Linked DNA regions of Homo sapiens: region 2 is linked to region 1. Evidence: fine-mapped expression QTL. A gene starts in region 1. The other region holds a variant in brackets. All regions are shown on one strand. Distances are from middle to middle.

Region 1 (5,373 bases):
AAGATTAGACTTTATTCTGAGATTTATTTTGGGGATGGAGGAGCTATTATTTCCTTTAGCCACTAAGTAGCTCAGACTCAGGCCTGCACTGCAAAACTTTGCTTGGCTGGGAAACAAGATTTGAGCCCGGCCGCCACCCACTCGACGTGGTTTGTGATGGCGCCCCCTGGTGGCGCAGGGAGCTTTCCCCAGTTCCTCACCCTCGTGCTTTAGGAGCGACTTAGAAACTACTCAGTCCATTTATTAAACCCTTTCTAGGACACGCTGCGGATCATTTAATCTTCACAAGTGTGTGTGACAAGTGGTATTTTCTTCATTTTAAGATGATAAAACTGAAACTCAAAAAAGTGAGGCGACTTGTCTAGGGTTGCAAAGTGTGTGGCAGAGCCAGGATCTAGGTCCCCCTGACTTCCAAGCTGAGTGTAAAGGTCTAGGTGAGTCTAAAAGTGTGGCCATGCAGAGAAGTATTGGTGTAGAGCAGTGGTTGTTGACCAAGGGTGGTTCCCCCTCCGGGGTCATTTGGCGATGTCTAGAGATATTTTTGGCTGCCATAACAGGGGTTTGGATGAGGGAGAGGGGAGGCTGCTATTGGCATGTAGGGGAGAGAGGCCACGCGGATGCTGCTGAACATCTCACAATACACAGAACAGCCCCCACCGCAAGGAACTGTTCAGCCCAAATGTCAGTAGAGCTGCTATGAAGCCCTGGTTTGATTTAGCAACCTGAGGATGCATTCTTGCAGTTAGCTAATGTTTGCTGAGTACTGAGCTGGATAGCGTGAGGGATATGGAAACAGTGCACCAGTCTGTGTCACCAAGTAGTTTGCAGCCTAGAAGGACAGGGGGTGGGGGCAGGAAAGGCACATGAAGGCCCTCAATATAAGGCAGCAGATGATAAGTGCAAGAAGAGAGTGTCCAGCAGGGCTAAGCCAGCGCTCAGGAGGGAGACCACATGTCTGGCTGTGGGAGGAACTGAAGGAAGCTGTGGGAAGGTGGTTTTGAGCTGGGTGTGTGAGCAAAGTTGAACTGGTGGAAAAACACAATACCTGTTCAGGGAAGGGCAAACAGGTTAGTTTGGTTGGAGAAATAGTATTTTTAGTGAGTAGAGGGAGGTACACTAGAAAGGCAGGTTGGGGCTACAGCTTTGAATCCAGGCAGAGGACTCTAGCCTGGGTGTCTGTCATAGTGATGGAAAAGTCTTCCCTTTCAGAACAGTGGTCTAGGCCCTAGGGCTATGGGGCTTAACAGCTTCCAGAGCACTCTCTCTACAAAGGAGGGGATGTTGGAAATTGGGGTGGAGAAGGGAGAATGCCTCCTGATTTTAGGACCAAGTTGATGCTGAGTATGTAACATAGCCATTTCACCTCAAAGTGGCCTTTGGGGAGATGGTGCTCACAAGCGGAAATATACATGGGGATCAGGTCTTTTCTGCGTGGTTGCTCTGTGCAGGGCTGGGCCACTTTATAGTGAAAGCTGGAGCAGATTTGGAACCCCTAAGCTAAAGTCGGCTTCCCAAAATGTGAGCTGTTACAGCAGGGCTTGCTATGGATAAAGCTTCAAATATGGACACTACCTGGTGACAGGCTTTTTCTAGTTTATTACGTTACCAGTAAATAGCATTAAGACATGTTGGTGGCATTCCAGTGCACTGTAAAGAATAGAAGCAAGGACTTCCTGATCTTCTATAAAGGTACCATTGCCTTCAACACTCTCCCACCATCATCATTAAGTTTAGCCATGAGAATTATGTTACTCTTTTGGAAAAGTGTTGGGGGAGAAGGCATGGGAGCAAATCTTTGTTGAGCTAGTATATACATACATACGTACGTGTGTGTGAGGGGGATCAGCTACAATTGCAGATATCTTCTTTTCTTTTCTTTCCTTTTTTTTTTTTTTTTTTTTTTGAGATGGAGTCTCACTCTGTCACCCAGGCTGGAGTACAGTGGTGCCGTCTCGGCTCACTGCAGCCTCCACCTCCTGGGTTCCAGCAATTCTCTGGCCTCAGCCTCCTGAGTAGCTGGGACTACAGGTGCGTGCCACCAGGTCTGGCTAATTTTTTGTATTTTTAGTAGAGATGGAGTTTCACCGTGTTAGCCAGGATGGTCTCGATCTCCTGACCTTGTAATCCGCCCTGCCTTGGCCTCCCAAAGTGCTGGGATTACAGGAGTGAGCCACCGCGCCCGGCCAGTTGCAGATATTTTCACATACAATATCTCGTTTAACTCTCTCAACATTGTTTGGGTGTAAGTACAGTTTGCTGTTTTTTTGTAAAGGAGGAAACTGGCATTGAGAAAGGCTCACTTGCCCCATCCCCCATAGCTAAGAGAAGCTGCATTTTGATGTGTCTGTGGCCTGTTTTGCCACATTTCTCCCCCCGTTTTCCCCTTCATAGACAGTCTTGTTTACCTGGATTCAGGCTGCTAGAGACCATGGACATCAGCATTAGTGGCAGCAACAGGAGGAGGGAAGAGATTAGAACTTTCATCGCAACTGTCGGTGCAGCTGTAAGTTGCTTGAAGAATATAATGGAAGGTTCCCTGCTGGAGGCTCCTGATCCCTGGGGATGACTCAGGTCAGGATACTCAGCCTGGTGGTCTATGCTTTAGTCCCAGGCCAGCGTTCCCATTTGAGGGCGAGAACAGGTGAGGTGACGCTGTCTTGCTGTTACGTAACAGATTAGACCATGTGCTTTATGGGAATCTGGGAGGTGAAACTGGTCAAACAAAAGAAATTCAGCATTCTTAAGAACATAAGAAGGTGACTGATAACTTGGCAGCTGTGCCAGTTCTCTCCTGTACTCTTTCCCGCCTCCTCACACCCCAATGCCTCATGATTTCTTCCTCAAATCTTTTTTTCTTGCTTGGATTTCCTTATACCTTTCAATGACCCTCTCTATCTGAATATTTGGCAGGAAAGTGGATACTAAGTGTTGGTAGAAGAGACTTTGACAAGGTCTGTTTCCCCTCTGTGCTCCTGCTCCCATCCTTGGCAAAATATCGGCAATAGTAGTGTTGTTGCCTGGGAAGTTGCCCTGTCCTCTCTCTGTTCACAATTCCCTCCAATTCTGCAGCCACATAAGATGGCAGCAGAGCAGGATCCGGGACAAGAGGCAGCTCCCCTGCCGAGAACACCGCCCCTGGAGCAGTGGGTGACACCAGGCCTCCTTGTGTGTCCATCGGGAAGGTGGCCATGGCTTAGTTGTTCTGGTCTAAAGGGGAGGGAACTGGGTTGGGGGAAGAGACCCCCAGAGCTTTAGGTCTCAGAGGGTTTGAGAAACAGGAGCCACAGGAGGGAAGGAGCCCTGAAGTGTGTTTGCCCAGCTGCTGGGGCGCCTGGCTCCAGCCCTTGTTTGGAAATGGCCCCGGGCAAAAGAAGAAAGGTAATAATACTTGAAGTAAACATTAGGGGCATAGAATATCAGCACTCACTAAACTTGACATTTATTTGAGACTTTAGGAAATGTGCTCAAAGGGAGAGGAGAGGCTGGGCTTGAATGCTGGGTGATATTCATGGGGGCTGAAGGGAAGGCTAACAAGGGAGCCCTTTTTTTGGAAGCCTCCAGGCAGGAGTGAGAGCAGGGGGTGTGACTTTATTTCCCTGAGAGAAGGAAAGAGGAAAGGCATGAGTCAAAGCCCTTTGGTTTTGTTTGACCATTCTTTTTTCTCCACGTTTTCAAATTATCTCGGCCTGTTGACTTGTCACAGAGTTGATTGTGGACTTTGCTACTGCAGTGTTTATAAAGCACTGCAGGGGCCAGGGACTGCTATGACTGAGCCTGTGTCCAAGTTGAAGGCTCAGGGTGGGCCTAAGCTTGTTCTGATGCAAATCACTGATGTGGCTTCTTTCTGGAAAATTCTAAAACCAGGGAGATGACATCCATTTCATAAAGCCTAGAGATATGGGTGCAGTCATCTCTCAAAGTGGCAGGAGTGCAGGGGGACTGAGAGGGACTTGGTTGGGTGGAACTTGAGCTGGAGTTGGGGGAGGATTTGGGTTGGTGGAGGGCAGAGAGGAGGGCCGTGCAGAGCAGGGGCGTGTTGTAGGAGAGGTGCCTCCTGGAGCTCATTGGATGGGGATTTTAGAGGACAGGAGCTGTTCGTGTTCATTTTTGTATTGCTTGAACTTACACAGGGTCTGGCACTTTGGGAGTATTCTATAAATGACTGTTGAATGGAATGATTGTTTTGTAGCCCATTAACTGGGCCTGATGTATTAGAAAGTGTGCGAAAATGTAGCCCATTAGCAGAAAGAAAATCTTACTGAAAAACCATCCCATGTACAAATGGAGCCTGGTGCGGCCACTTTACTTATGCTGCTGAGTTCTGCATCAGTCCACACCCAGGCCACCGCAGGGGCCGGGAGCTCCTCCTCAGACCTACCTCCCGTGCCTCAGTCTCTTTACCCCTCTGTTCTTCCAGGTCCTGCTCCCTCTGGTTTCCCCTCCATGCACTTGGGGTGGGTGTTGCATCCTGTGTCCCATTGGAGGGGGCTTCCGGTCTGTTAGGTCTATTAATATAAAACACCCCCAAGACAAATGGACTTTTTTCTTGTTAACATCACAACTTCTTATGATGCATCTCAAGAACATTATTTGTGTCAAGAGTCTCTCTGATGTACAGAGGCCCTCCATTCCTCAGGAGGAGGTAAGGGGAATTTGGGAGAAAACACCGCCCTGCCTGGGTTACTTATTTCCCTATTCTACAGTGTACTTGGTAGACATTCAAAAATATTTGTTGACTTTGTCCATGATCCACATGGCTCTCATATAGTCATTTATTCACACATACATTCAGTGAGACTTTGAGCGCCTAGTGTGTGCCTGGTATTTACTAGATGGTGGATGCTGAGATCAGGTGTGCTGCTGTCTCTGAGGAGCTCTCACTATACAGTGGCACCTAGGGTGACCGAATCCACCTGCCCCACTTTACAGACATGGAAATTAAAGTGCAGGGAAGTTATAGGATTAGTTCAACAACACAGTCAGTAGCCTCAAAGTTACAGGAGTAAATCAAGTTTTCTGACTTGCTGGATTTTCTATTAGTGTGCAGCTACCTGGCTGCTGCAGGTGTAGACGTGGTGAGCTCCGATAGGAGAGAGGACGTTCAGAGTGAAATGGGAGCCCTGAGCACCCTGGATTAACCGGGAGGACATACCGGGTCCAGCTGTGACCGCACAAAGGACCATCAGGGATATTTGTATTCTCTTTTTCACTTTGAGCTTGAAATGAAGAAAACTGACCCCAGGAAACCAAGAGTGGAAGATTTTTCACAGGGGATTAGTGAGATGCGTCAAAAAGCCTGTGTTGGATGGGTGCCTGTAATCCCAGCACTTTGGGAAGCTGAGGTGGGAGGATGGCTTGGGTCCAGGAGTTTGA
Region 2 (5,373 bases), 300 kb before region 1:
ACTGCAACTGCCACCCCCCAGCAAGCAATCCTCCTACCTCAGCCTCCTGAGTAGCTGGGACCAAAGGCACATGCTACCACACCCAGCTAAGTTTTGTACTTTTTGGTAGAGACAGGATTTCAACATGTTGCATGGGCTGGTCTTGAACTCCCGGGCTCAAGCGATCCTCCCTCCTCAGTCTCCCTACATGCTGGGGTTATAGTCATGAGCCACTGTGCCTGGCCTGTACTCATTTTTTTAATTAAAATTAGAACATATTAAATGATACACATGCAGAAAATCAAATAAATGATTATCCCAAAAGTGAGAATTGTAGTTACCTCCAGCAGAGAGGAAGGAGTATGTTTGGAAAGGGACACACGGGGTGGGGCTTCTGGGTGCCTTTGACATCTCCACCCAAGTGGTGAATGCACAGATGTTCACTCGATCAAGATTCATTAAACTGGCCAGGGGTGGTGGTTCACACCTGTAATCTCAGCACTTTGGGAGACTGAGGCTGGGTCACTTGAGGCCAGGAGTTTGAGACCAGCCTGGCCAACATGGTGAAATCCTGTCTCTGCTAAAAATACAAAAAATTAGCTGGGTGTGGTAGTGCATGCTTGTAATCCCAGCTACTCAGGAGGCTAAGGCTTGAACCTGGGGGCTGAGGTTGCAGTGAGCCGAGATCAAGCTGCTGCACTCCACCCTGGGCAAAAGAGCAAGACTCTGCCTCAAAAAAAAAGAAAAAATTCATTAAACTGTACATTAACGTCTTGTCCAATGACTGTGTGCTTCCTGTGGGCAGGGGCCAATCATTGCAATATCATCTGTTTCCCCATCCCCATTTCACTGCCCAGAAACAGACTTAATATAAGTTGTGTGCTCAGTAGGGAGTGCCCATCACGGCAAGCGCTCAGGAGGGCCAAGGCCGCTGTCCAGGGTACTAACGACCCAAGCCTGGGAGGCCACAGAGAAGGCCAGCAAAGCGAGCCAGCTTCAAGATGCCTCATTCTGAAGGGCCCCTGCCCACCTCAACTCCTCTCTCCCCACCCCCTTCACTCACTTCCTCCAAGCTGTCTGCCTTTCTGTTCCTGCAATCCACGCCCGCGCTTCTTCTTGCCTCAGGACTTTTGCTCTTGCCCTTCCTCCTGCCCAGTGCAGTCCTTCCCCAGGTGTTCCTAAGGCTCGTCCCCTTACTTACTCCAGAATTACACTTAAACACCCCCTCCACAGAGAGGCCTTTTGACATCCTGTCTCACATGGCACTTCTCATCACTACGTCCTCTACCAGGTTGCACTTTCTTCTAGCACTTTTTGCTGTCTCACCTTCAAGCCTCGTGTCACGTGCTTGTTTATTACCTCTTTTCCCCCAAACTGAATGTTTATGCCAGCACAGGGAGCATGTGTGTCCCATTATGTCTCATCCTGTCTTTTAGAAGGATCCCAGGTGCACAAAATTGGATTAATCATAATCCTTGGTTCACAGCGTACTCCCATCACTGGGCTGGATGGAGCCCTCTTTCTCTATCCATTCACTTATTGTTTTACTTATTTTTAATAATGAGTTAATGTGAACCCACATTCACCATTCAGATTAGAACCATGATAATAATCATACTAGCCTGTGTCTGTCCTCTTCACTGCTGTGTCTCCAGCACCTGCAACCCAGGAGGTGCTTGGTATTGATTTATTGAAGAAGCTGACAAAGGGGCAATGACCTCCACACCCTGCAAAAGGGAGCTAATGGGAGTGCCCACCTGGCCTCACAAGGCGGGAGAAGAAGGCAAAGGCCAGGCCCTCCACTCAGTTCCCCTGTCCTCCCCTGGTGCTCCACTCCTGCTCAGCCTGGGCAAGCGCCTCTTCCACACGATTCAGTTCCACATCTTCAGGGAGGGCCCACTGTGCCAGACCTTGTGCCAGGAGCTAGGGACACAGGGTGGCTCAGCTTGGCCATGCTCCTGAGGAGCTCTCAAGCCTCGATGCTCCAGGCCCCTAGACCATCCCACTATTCTACTAAGTAACAAGAGCAGCTACATGGCACCTGCTCTGTGCAGGCATATGTTATGTGTATTCTTTGCATCATCTTTTGGCATCTTCCCAACAATTCACTAAAGCAGGGGCTGTTATTATCCACCCCCTTTTCAGAGGAGCACCCCAAGGCGGGTCAGAGAGGGCAAGGACTTGCCCAGACTCAGTCATGGGCAAGCCAATTCCAGAGCCCAGCTCTCCTTGCCCCAGGCCTTGCTGTTACACTGATCCCATGCACATTTCTCTTCCTCCAAAGTCTGTGAAGTCCTGGGCCTCTTGCATCTCTGCAAAAGCAACTGAGGATGGCTGAAAAGGTGTCAACTTTAGAGTCACATAAATAGGTAGTTAAGTCCCAGCTGTGGGGCTAGGTGTGGCCTATGTGTCACTTGGCCCATGTGTCACATTCCTGAGGGGATGAAATTAAAACAAAATGTGTATTTTTTACTTTATAGTTGAATGACACTGCCAGACCACACCACCAGTAAGATAGTATGCATTTTGTTTTAATAAATCCTGAAATGACCTTATAAATATCAGTTAACGTGGCATTTTATTGTTGTCATTGCTAAAAGCACAGGTCTGTAAATCCATTTCAGTATTCCTTCGTTCTTAGTACACTAGGAGGCTCAAGAATTAGAAG[C/T]TGCCTTGGCCTCTCTCAGCCTCTGCAAAGACTGCTGAGTCCTAGCTGTGCAACTTTGAGCAAACCACTCAGCCTCTCTGTGCCTCTCTCAGAACTGTGCGGACCCTGAGCAGCATCCACAGAGGGCCCTGCCTACAGAAGGTGCTCTACATTGATTCAGAGGAGTTTAACTTAACGGAACTGTATTAGCCCAGATCGCATGAGACACAGTGCCTGTCATCGTTGAAGCAAACTCTGAGCTCTGGACATTTGAAGGAAAGTGAGGGATCAAGGAAGAAGTCTAGGTTGTTGTTGTGACAACCATTTACTGAGATGGACACAAGCTCTTGGAAAAGCTTGGGAGAGGGAATCAAGAGTTCTGCTTTAGGCTGGGTGCAGTGGCTCATGCCTGTAATCCCAGCACTCTGGGAGGCCAAGGCAGGTGGATTGCTTGAGGTCAGGAGTTCGAGACCAGCCTGACCAACACAGTGAAATCCGTCTCTACTAAAAATACCAAAATTAGCTGGGCATGGTGGCACACACCTGTAATCCCAGCTACTCGGGAGGCTGAGGCAGAAGAATCACTTAAACCCGGGAGGCGGAGGTTGCAGTGAGCTGAGATTGCGCCACTGCACTCCAGCCTGGGTGACAAAGCGAGACTCTGTCTCAAAAAAAAAAGAGTTCTGCTTCCCAGGAGGTGGAGCTTGCAATGAGCCGAGATCGCGCCACTGCACTCCAGCCTGGGTGACAGAGCGAGACTCCGTCTCAAAAAAAAAAAAAAAAAAAAGAAAAAAAAGAGTTCTGCTTTAGACAAGTTAAAGAGAAGCCCTCCACCTACTATTAATATTTAGAAGCATTTTCTCACTGAATCTTCTCAATACTCTACAAAAAAGCATTGTTAACATCCCCATTTTACAGAGGAAAACACTGATGCCCAGCAAAGTTAAATCACTTGGCTGGAGACACAGATGGAACCAGGATTGGCACCCAGGAAACCGGACTCCAAAGTCCACATTGCCATCCACTGTTCTCTTCCTCTCCCTCAAACCCTTGCCCACCCTGTCCCATTGGCTCAGCAGAAACACTGGCCTTGGACCTGGGCTTTGCTGTCTGAGACATCCATGTATCTCCCATCCCCGTCCCCAGTTATGGCCTTCTGCCAATATGAACCATTCACTGAGTGCCTTCACATCACCTGCCCACCTTGATTCACAACAATTCTGGGATGCAGATTGCACAATGCTCCCCAGCTCCACTTTGTGGGGCCCTAGCAGATTCTCCGAGCTCATACAGAAAGACCAGCTGTGAGGGGAGCCAACACCTTCAAATCTACTCGCTCCCTACACCACCTTACTCAGAGCTCACCTCCTCTGTGGAGTCTCCTAAGGGAAGGCCCCCCCATTCACATCTGTGCAAGATCCCGGTCTGGCAAGAAACTTCTCAGTGCCAACCAGGCACTTTAGGGTTCACATGGAGAACATTAAATATAAGCAACCCAGGCATCTGCCTCATGGAGGCTTCCTGCAGCCTCCTAGGGAAAAAGTAGCACCTGACCTGGTAAGAGGAAAAGCTCAGGTTTGGAAGGGTCAGACTCTCACTCTCTGCTCTCCACTTCTTTGAGCCTTGATATTGTCACCAATTCCAAAAGCGCTGTCTGATTCCTCCACTCCTCCCACTGCAGTCCAGGCCACCACCACCTCTGGCCTGAGTGACTTCAGTGGTCTCCTCCCCGAAGGTGTCCCTTCTTCCATGCCTGTCTCAGATAGTCTCGTCTCCCCTTGGCCCCCAAAGGGGGTCTTTCTAAAACGTAACCAGGTGGTGTCACTCCCTTGCTTAAGATTCTCCAGGAGCTTCCCATGCATTTGGGAATAAAACTCAATCACCTTAACCCAACCTATAAAGTCCTATGTCATCTCACCCCTGCTGACACCTCTCATCTCTTCCCCCATCACTCACCTCTTTGCCTACCCTGCTCCAAGCCATGCTGTCTCCTCTCTGTTCTTTAAACCATGCTCTTTGCAACCCCAGGCCCTTCGCATGTGCCATTCCCTCTGCCTGGAACACTGTTCCTGTGCTCTTTGCCCCATTAAATCCTACTCGTCTTTTAAGGTTTGGCTTAAATAACTTGCCCTCTCTCCTGGCTCCCTATTCTAGTTTATTCTTTGGGATAGACTTATCAGTTCCTGATTTTGTATTTGATTGATGTTTACACTTAAAGATCTGCATCTTCTCTAGTTGTCAACTCCATGAAAATACACCATGCTGGTTCTGCTGCCTGCTACATCTTTAGTGCCCAACAAACGCTGGGCACATAGTGGGTGCTCAACAGACAGGTGGAATGAATGACTTAAATGGATCCTGCATAGGGACAAGCACCTGAGGCAGAGTACTTAAGTCTTCGAAGCCTCAGTTTCCACTTCTGTAAAATCAAGATAATAATTCCTCCTTTACAAGATAGTGGTGAGGATCCAAATAGTCAATGAATATTGACAGTGCGTTGGGAAAAAATCCTCTGCAAATACAAAAGCTTAAAGACCTGGAACCTAGAGGATGGGCAGGAGTCAGAGAGAAGAGCAACAGGAAAGGGCATGGCCATTTATCAGGTGACATTGTGTTTTGTATTTCCCCTTTCCCTGACCCCTATGAGGTAGTAGTTATGACCCAGAGGAGGAAATAAGGCTCAGACAGGAGAAGCCCCCTTCCCAGGGTGTCATGGTGAGTCCATGGAAGAGCCGGGATTTGTACCC

What was found. PIP is the estimated chance that this variant, and not a neighbour inherited with it, causes the effect.
Region 2: its variant is the best candidate, but not a certain one, in a credible set for the expression of CXCL17 in esophagus mucosa (GTEx, PIP 0.65).

Annotation. Positions count from the first base shown.
Region 1 is chr19:42,440,349-42,445,721 of GRCh38, forward strand. CXCL17 (C-X-C motif chemokine ligand 17) reads right to left here and starts at 2,598. Exons shown (of 4, transcript NM_198477.3): 1 at 2,406-2,598. The coding sequence starts at 2,484. All of the region lies in intron 1 of LIPE-AS1 (LIPE antisense RNA 1), which reads left to right. RefSeq lists a silencer at 27-116.
Region 2 is chr19:42,142,640-42,148,012 of GRCh38, forward strand. It overlaps a transcript of POU2F2 not described here. Among named protein-coding and RNA genes, the nearest start is that of POU2F2-AS2, 7.2 kb to the right of the region's middle. The variant C/T (reference allele first, on the strand shown) is at 2,648.